Homo sapiens: one gene and its partner. The protein of the gene in region 2 purifies or fractionates together with the protein of the main gene of each other region. This does not show direct contact. Each region holds a gene or a part of one and is shown on either strand. Other genes may lie near its edges. The genes, in order: EIF2D and DNAJC18.

Region 1 (4,020 bases), on a different chromosome or scaffold from region 2:
TTGAGAGCAGAGTAAGGTGACTGTAGTTAACAACAATGTATTGTGTATGTCAAAATAGCTAGAAAAGAGGACTTACAGTGTTCCCGACACATAGAAATGGTAAATACTCAAGGTGATGATACCCCAAATACCCTGCCTTGATCGTTATACACTCTGTGCATGTAACAAAATACCATGCACCCCATAAATATGTACAAATATCTATCAATAAAAATAAATACCTAAAGCTATGATGACTTCAGTAAATTCTTTGTAAGCTTGCATTTTATTCCTCACAATAGCCAATTAAAGATGATTCATGGGTATTTGTGAGAGAATATTTACTTAGTCGGTAGTCAATGTTGATCGTATACATGGATCTGAACACCCCAGACAATAACTGAGTGTCCACAGCCCATGGTTTGGAAACCACTGATCTTAATTACCTCTAAGATGCTATGGTTTTCTATTCTCCCTCCCAGACATCCTCCCCAAATGTGTCTATGTCTGATAAAGACAAAGACCCAATAAGACAGATCTGGTGCTTCTCATGCACTCACTTTTTGTTGTCTGCATCAACCAGGTCATTTTTCTTGGCGTAGTTAATGACGATCGTTCGGACCTCACTGCCCTCCAGAAAGCTCCCCTTCCTAGGTGAGGAGAAGTGACCCAGGGGTTAGTTCATGCTGTGCCATGAGACAAAAATGCAGATGCCCAGACTCACTCCCTGCTGAGCAGGGAACTTTCCTTAGCTTTCGGCCTCTAGTTTCTTCCCTTTTCCTGACTGAAGTGAGCATGACCATGTGAAGAATAATTACACGCAGAAAAGGGTGAGACCTACTCGTTCATTTAGTCCAGAGGAACTTGCCCAGGGAAGAAGGCTGGAAGCTGGATTTTGGAGAAGGGGAGAACAGGGGCAGAGCAGGTTTTGCCAGTCGCAAAAGAGCACTACTCAGGTTGAGAGGAACTGTAGGCCAGAACACCAAGCAGGCAGAGAAGGGCTGCTCTCCAAAAACTCACTTGTGGCCAGACTCCTGGAAGAGCAGGGTCATGCTGGCTGGGACACAGTAGAGGGGTTTTATATCTGGAGGGTGATAGGGCTGTTCCCTGCTACCCTCCTGGATAGTCTGGGAGGTCGGGGAGGGCTCGGGTATGACGAAAGATGTAATCCTAAAACCCAGCAGAAGGAAAGAAAAAACACATTTTATACTAGCATCTCAGCAATCCCCAGTCCGTGGCCCAGGTGCCCTGGGGCCAGCTGGGCTACAGTGACAGGCCCCCTGCACTCACCTCGGGTGTTTCCAGTCCACAGCCACAATGCTCTCCACCCCTTTGCTCAGCTCCTTCACCTGTATAATCTGCTCCTGCTGCATTTGCTGCAGGAACTTAGAGAGCTAAGGGAGAGAGGGCCAGTGGTAGGGGACTTCATTGATTCCACACACATACTGAGCACCCAGGATGTGCCAGAGTGAGCTAGGCAGGGACTGTGCAGGGATATGAGACAGCCCCTGCCTTCATCAACCAGGAACTGGGAGGCCCCCAACCTGAGGGCCAGGGAGCAAGAAGCTGCTAGAGACTAACCAGTGAGGCCGTTCAGAACTCTAATCAGATATAAAGGGGTCAAAGGAGAAAGGAAAGTGGGTGCCACCAACTGCTTCAGCCCAGGGAGAGTTTCTTTCTTCCCCCTTATACTTGGAGTCAAAAAGCTTAATTCTAGACTGAGCCTGGTAGACAAGGCTTCCCCAGCATCCATCTGGCTTATGTCATATGTGCCCCTACACAACTCTCTGCATGGGTCTGCAAAGAAGATCCTTGCTTACCTTTTTGTAGCTTGACTTCTTTATGTCCAGTTGTCGTCCTTCGGGGCTGATGGCAGATGGAAAAGGCAAATTAAACTAATGAGCAGTCATACTGGGACCTGCCTGACACTGAGAGGAGGGCCTTTTTCCTCAGCCTTCCTCCCCCACCTTCAGAGAGAGGCCACTGTGCCAGAACTCTCTGCCCAGGGATGACAGCAGAGAGGGATGCAGACTATGGGACATTCTAAATCAGTGCTGTTCAAGAGAACTTTCCATAGACGTGGAATGTTCTCTGTGTTGTCTAACAGGGCAGCCATTAGCCACATGTGGGTAGTAAGTACTTGAAGTGTGACTAATGTGACCAAGGGAACTGAATTTTAAATTTTATTTACTTTAAATTAATTTAAACTGAAAATAGCGACATGTGGCCAGTGGCTACCACATTGGATACAGCCTTAGATTCCTCCCAGACCAGACAACCTTCTGTGGCCTCCAAAGTTGCAACAGCAAACTCACACTGTGGGCAGCCAGGCCTGGAGTGGGGCCCAGCAAGCCGCATCCTGGGGTCAGGTCTGGCCAACTAATTATCTACTGTCTATGGTCACATTAGTGCTACAATGGCAGCATCGAGCAGTTGCAACAGAGATGGTGTGGCCTGCAAAACTGAAAATATTCATATTTACTATCTGGCCCTTTACAGAAAAACATGCTGACCCCTGCACTACAGCAATTAGTTTTGGAGAGAACATTCCTGATAAAAGCTTACATCTTCTCTCAAAACATGACACGCAATAGCAGTGGATTCTCGAGGAGTCCTTCTAGAATCCACCCCAGAATCCTATCCTACAGAATATTCTGGGGCCCCTTTACCATATATTTGCAACCCAAGAAAGTCAGAACAGATTACCAAGTATCCCTCCACACACTCCAGACACCACATTTGTACAGGATAGCTTAAAGACACCCAAGTATAAATGGGAAGACATTACATTAAGAATCACTTTTTTAAAAAACCACAGCCAGATTCTCAAAAAGAAATAAATTCAGGCCGGACACAGTGGCTCACGCCTGTAATCCCAGCACTACGGGAGGCCGAGGCAGGCGGATCACTTGAGGTTAGGAGTTCAAAACCAGCCTGGGCAACATGGTGATACCCCATCTTTACTAAAAATACAAAAATTAGCTGCACATGGTGGCATGTGCCTGTAATCCCAGCTACTCGGGAAGGCTGAGGCAGGAGAATCTCTTGAACCTGGGAGGCAGGGGTTGCAGTGAGCCGAGATCACGCCACTGTACTCCAGCCTGGGTGACAGAGTGAAACTGTGTCTCAAAACAAAAAATAAATAAATAAATAAATTCAATCTCAGGGTAAAAATCAATAAGCAAACCTCCTGACATGATAGTATTTACTGAATGCTTATTATGGTTCAGGCTATGTAATCTTTACAGCAATCCCATGATTATTAGAAATTAGGACTCAGAGAAGCCCAGTAACAAGCTAAAATGCACATTGCTTGAACACCCTGGAGACCTAGCAGTTGAGTACAGACAGCTCTGTCTTCAAAATCCAGGTTCTATCCACACGCAATAATACCACTCCTGATGGCTTGTGTTTTGGATGGGGTGGGCCGGGACGGGGGGTGTTCACACCAATTCTTCCTCCTAATAAAACCTAATGTGGCCCCCCACATACTTTTCAGAAGTGTGAGGAGGTTGAATGTTCCAGAAGAAGATTCCTGACAAAGAGGCTGCCCTGGGACACTTCCTGCAGAGGACACGCTGCCCGATTTGTGAGGTTGCCCAGAACCCCCACGGCAGAGGCAGTGTTCACAGAATCTCAGGAATTTTAACTTTCCGGTCCTCAATATCCTTTCATTGGCTAAAATTTAAGATTTTGTTTTAACAGCCCAGCAAGCTAAGAATTAACTTTTTAGAACCCAGGAACTAATGTATTTGTCAGATAAGCCTTCCCTCCACTCTTTCCACAGCATGTCCCTCAACCAGTCCCTGCATTGGCCCCATCCTGTCCTACTACCAAGGAGCACACGTGAGACCCCGGCCCCGGCCTCCAGCCCACATCAGTGCTTTCCATACCAGCAGGAGAACATGTGGCTGCCAAGGAAAGTGCTGGTGAGTAAAGGGAGGTCAGCCTTTTTGACTCGGCACTTCAAGGCATGTAAGAAGCATTGCTGTAACAGCTCATCCATTTGTTCTGCAGGGAAAAGACAAGAGCCACATCCTT
Region 2 (3,519 bases):
ATCTATTTCCCGAGGCACACAGGAGACTGCCTCAGTATTTTTGAGTCTCAGCACCATGACTACCCAGCTGTTCCTTTAAACATCAAATCGGTGTTTTCTACAGCAAAAGGTGAAATGAAATGTTAGTAATGTATCAGCAAAACCTTCAAGTCTTTCACCCCCAGACTGTTACTGAGAAAGATTTAGAAATACCAGACTTACGATTTATAGAACAGACTATATGGGGGATTAGTAGCCAGCAGCTGAGTAATGACAGATATAATCACAATCACAAGAACTGGAAGTAGCTGAATAAATGCAGAATATGTAGTCTGAAAAAGAAAAAAAAATAAAAACTTGCTGTAAGTGTTCTTTTTTTTTTTTCTGTCGCCCAGGCTGGAGTGCAGTGGTGCGATCTCGGCTCACTGCAAGCTCCGCCTCTCGGGTTCACGCCATTCTCCTGCCTCAGCCTCCCGAGTAGCTGGGACTACAGGCACCCGCCACCACGCCCGGCTTAGTTTTTGTATTTTTAGTAGAGACAGGGTTTCACCGCAGCCAGGATGGTCTCGATCTCCTGACCTCGTGATCTGCCCACCTCGGCCTCCCAGAGTGCTGGGATTACAGGTGTGAGCCACTGCGCCTGGCCTGTAAGTGTTCTTTATCAATATAAAGCTTATTGAAAATAAGATAGTTGCTCCAAAGAAAATAACAAATTATCAATGCACTGCATAGGAGGATCCACAAAGCCCCAGGCTTTTCTGGGAAGGCTGTACTTTCAGCTGAGAAGTACAGGTTGGGCAGTCCTAATCAGAAAATTCAAAATCACAAATGCTCCAAAATCTAGAACTTTTTGAGTACCAGGATGACACTTAAAGGAAATGCTCATTGGAGCATTTTGGATTTCCTTTTTTTTTTTTTTTCTGAGACATGGTCTTGCTCTGTCACCCAGGCTAGAGTACAGTGACACAAACATGGCTCACTGCAGCCTTGACCTCCTGGGTTCTGATGATTCTCTCGCCTCAGCCTCCTGAGAAGCTGGGACCACAGGTGCACACCACCGTGTCCAGCTAATTTTTAAATTTTTGTAGAGACAAGGTCTTGCCATGTTGCCCAGGCTAATCTCAAACTCCTAGGCTCAAGCAATTCTCCTGCCTCAGTTCCCCCAAAGTGTTAGGATTACAGGTGTGAGCCATAGCACCCAGCCTCAGATTTTCAGATTAGGAATTGTCAAATATATAATGGTATAATGCAAATTTCCAAAATCCAAAAAAAAAAAAAAATCTGAAATCTGAAATACTACTGGTCCAATTTACTTCAGATAAGGGATACTCAATCTATACCAAATAACCTTTACTCTCTCTGCTGAGCAGGCTGAAGGAGGTCCAACAACAACCTGGATTGACACCCAGTAATCCCCCTGCAGCCCCATTAATAAGACCAATGAAGCAAACATCTCTAGGTAAACCTGCCCAGACTGTGCCTCTTACAGTAGTGGGGCTCTAGGAGCCAGGTTAGCATCATGCTTGGCCACAGCTGATTGGACTCAGGGGACATCCAACTCTGGCAGAGGTAATCACGTTTTCTCTCCTAGGAATTTGGGGTTGAAACTCATCACCCTTCACTTCTGGGTCATCACTTTAAGGAAGAACACACACTCTCAGGCACTGTAGACTGGCTATTTGCAAGGGGAAGTAGAACAAGCAAAGCTGCTTGGTGAAAACAAAACAGAGGCAAAGAGTGGCAGGAAAACTGGAGACAATCTGGGCCCAAAGAGTCCTGCAGAGCACAGCTGCTTGGGAGCCTGACAGTATCCCAGTTCCTTGTTCCTGTCTGTCATGAGGCCCAGCTGTGCTTCTTGTCCTTGAGCTTCATGAGACTCTTTTGATCCCTTACCTTAAACCCCCTTTAGTTCTAAATATTTTGAAGAGGATTCCTATTTTCTGCAGCCAAGAAAATTATGAAGCCGGAGCGGTGGCTCATGCCTGTAATCCTAGCACTTTGGGAAGCCAAGGCAGGAGGATCACTTGAGCCCAGGAGTTTGTGACCAGCCTGGGAAACATGGTGAGAAATAATCTCTACAAAAAATGAGCTGGGCATGGTGGCACGCACCTATAGTCCCAGCTACATGAGAGGCTGAGGTGGGAGGATTGGTTGAGCCCTGGAGTTTGAGGCTGTAGTGAGCTGTGTTTCTACTATTGTACTCCGGCCTGAGTGACAGTGAGACCCTCTCTCAAAAAAAAAAAAAAAAAAAAAAAAAAAAAAAAAGCCTTGATGAAGTCAGCCCCACAGATTGCTGAGATTCTGGGAGAGCCACCCAAGAATGGGCAGAGGGAGGGGATACCATTCTGCCTATTTAGGCCAATTTTCCAGCTCTTCTAACCATTGCTTTTGCTTTCCTAAAGCACATCTTTCCTAAAGCAACATATCTCAGGTTCAACTTCTAAAACTTGACCATGTACCATCAAGGTTGGCCAAGTACAACTGTTTATGGGCAGCAGTGCTCCTCCCTCCCTAGGTACCTGAGGTTTCTCTTCTTCCTCCTCCTTCTGAGTCTGTGTCCTCTCATGTCGGTGCCGTCGACGGTAATAGTAAGTGTCATCTGTCACATTTGAAAACATATGAATATTTCCTGGAAAAGAAATACATGGTATGGGATATGGCAAACACTCCTTCCCTGCCTTTTTCTTTTTTTTTTGGAGATGGAGTTTTGCTCTGTTACCCAGACTGGAGTGCAATGGGGTGATCTCGGCTCACTGCAACCTCTGCTTCCTGGGTTCAAGCGATTCTCCTGCCTCAGCATCCTCAGTAGCTGGGATTACAGGCACCCGCCACCATGCCTGGCTAACTTTTGTATTTTTAGTAGAGATGGGGTTTCACCATGTTGGCCAGGCTGGTCTCGAACTCTTGAACTCAAGTGATCCACCTACCTTGGCCTCCCAAAGTGTTGGGATTACAGGCGTAAGCTACCGCGCCTGACCCTTCCTTGCCTTTTTCAAGGTCCTTGTTCCCAGCTAGGTTTGTTAAGGATAGAGTATTGGCCTATTTTACCCAGTAGAAAAATAAGACAATAGGCAAGCCAAGTGAACCAGCTGGAGCTAAAGCGTGCTGAGCTCTCCTGACTTCATTTAAATAGTCCTTTGCAACTAGTGAGAGAGAACCCCGAAAGGCTAGAAGAGAGAGAGCATTAGGGCCGTGAATCCTATCTGGCATGTTCACGTCTGCTTCCGTGCCCAATACCATATTGTGTCACTGGTATCTTTTAATAGCAACTCATAAAATTCAATTTACTTCCTGGGCATTGAATTATACCAACTTCCAACTTGCTGGGGGGTACTTTCCTATCTTCTATCTTTGTAAGTGCTATTTTACACAACAATAATAGGCATTTTGTTACTTATTTATAAGGCACTTAAAAATATCTAATCCTCACAGTGACCCTGTGAAGTAGGTATTATTAACAGCCCCATTTTTCAGGAGAGGAAACAGGGTCAGAGAGACTAAATGATTTGGTCAAAATTATGCACAGCTGGGGGCTGGAGA

What was found.
Region 1: the proteins of DNAJC18 (region 2) and EIF2D purify together in Homo sapiens (affinity purification with mass spectrometry; one large-scale study listed by BioGRID and IntAct). This does not show direct contact.

What each region holds. Positions count from the first base shown.
Region 1 is NC_000001.11:206,598,464-206,602,483, forward strand, and holds part of EIF2D (eukaryotic translation initiation factor 2D), read right to left. Parts: intron 3,991-4,020; coding exon 3,873-3,990; intron 1,846-3,872; coding exon 1,800-1,845; intron 1,374-1,799; coding exon 1,270-1,373; intron 1,150-1,269; coding exon 1,000-1,149; intron 630-999; coding exon 540-629; intron 1-539. UniProt on the Homo sapiens protein: Translation initiation factor that is able to deliver tRNA to the P-site of the eukaryotic ribosome in a GTP-independent manner.
Region 2 is NC_000005.10:139,422,507-139,426,025, forward strand, and holds part of DNAJC18 (dnaJ homolog subfamily C member 18), read right to left. Parts: intron 2,609-3,519; coding exon 2,499-2,608; intron 312-2,498; coding exon 202-311; intron 1-201.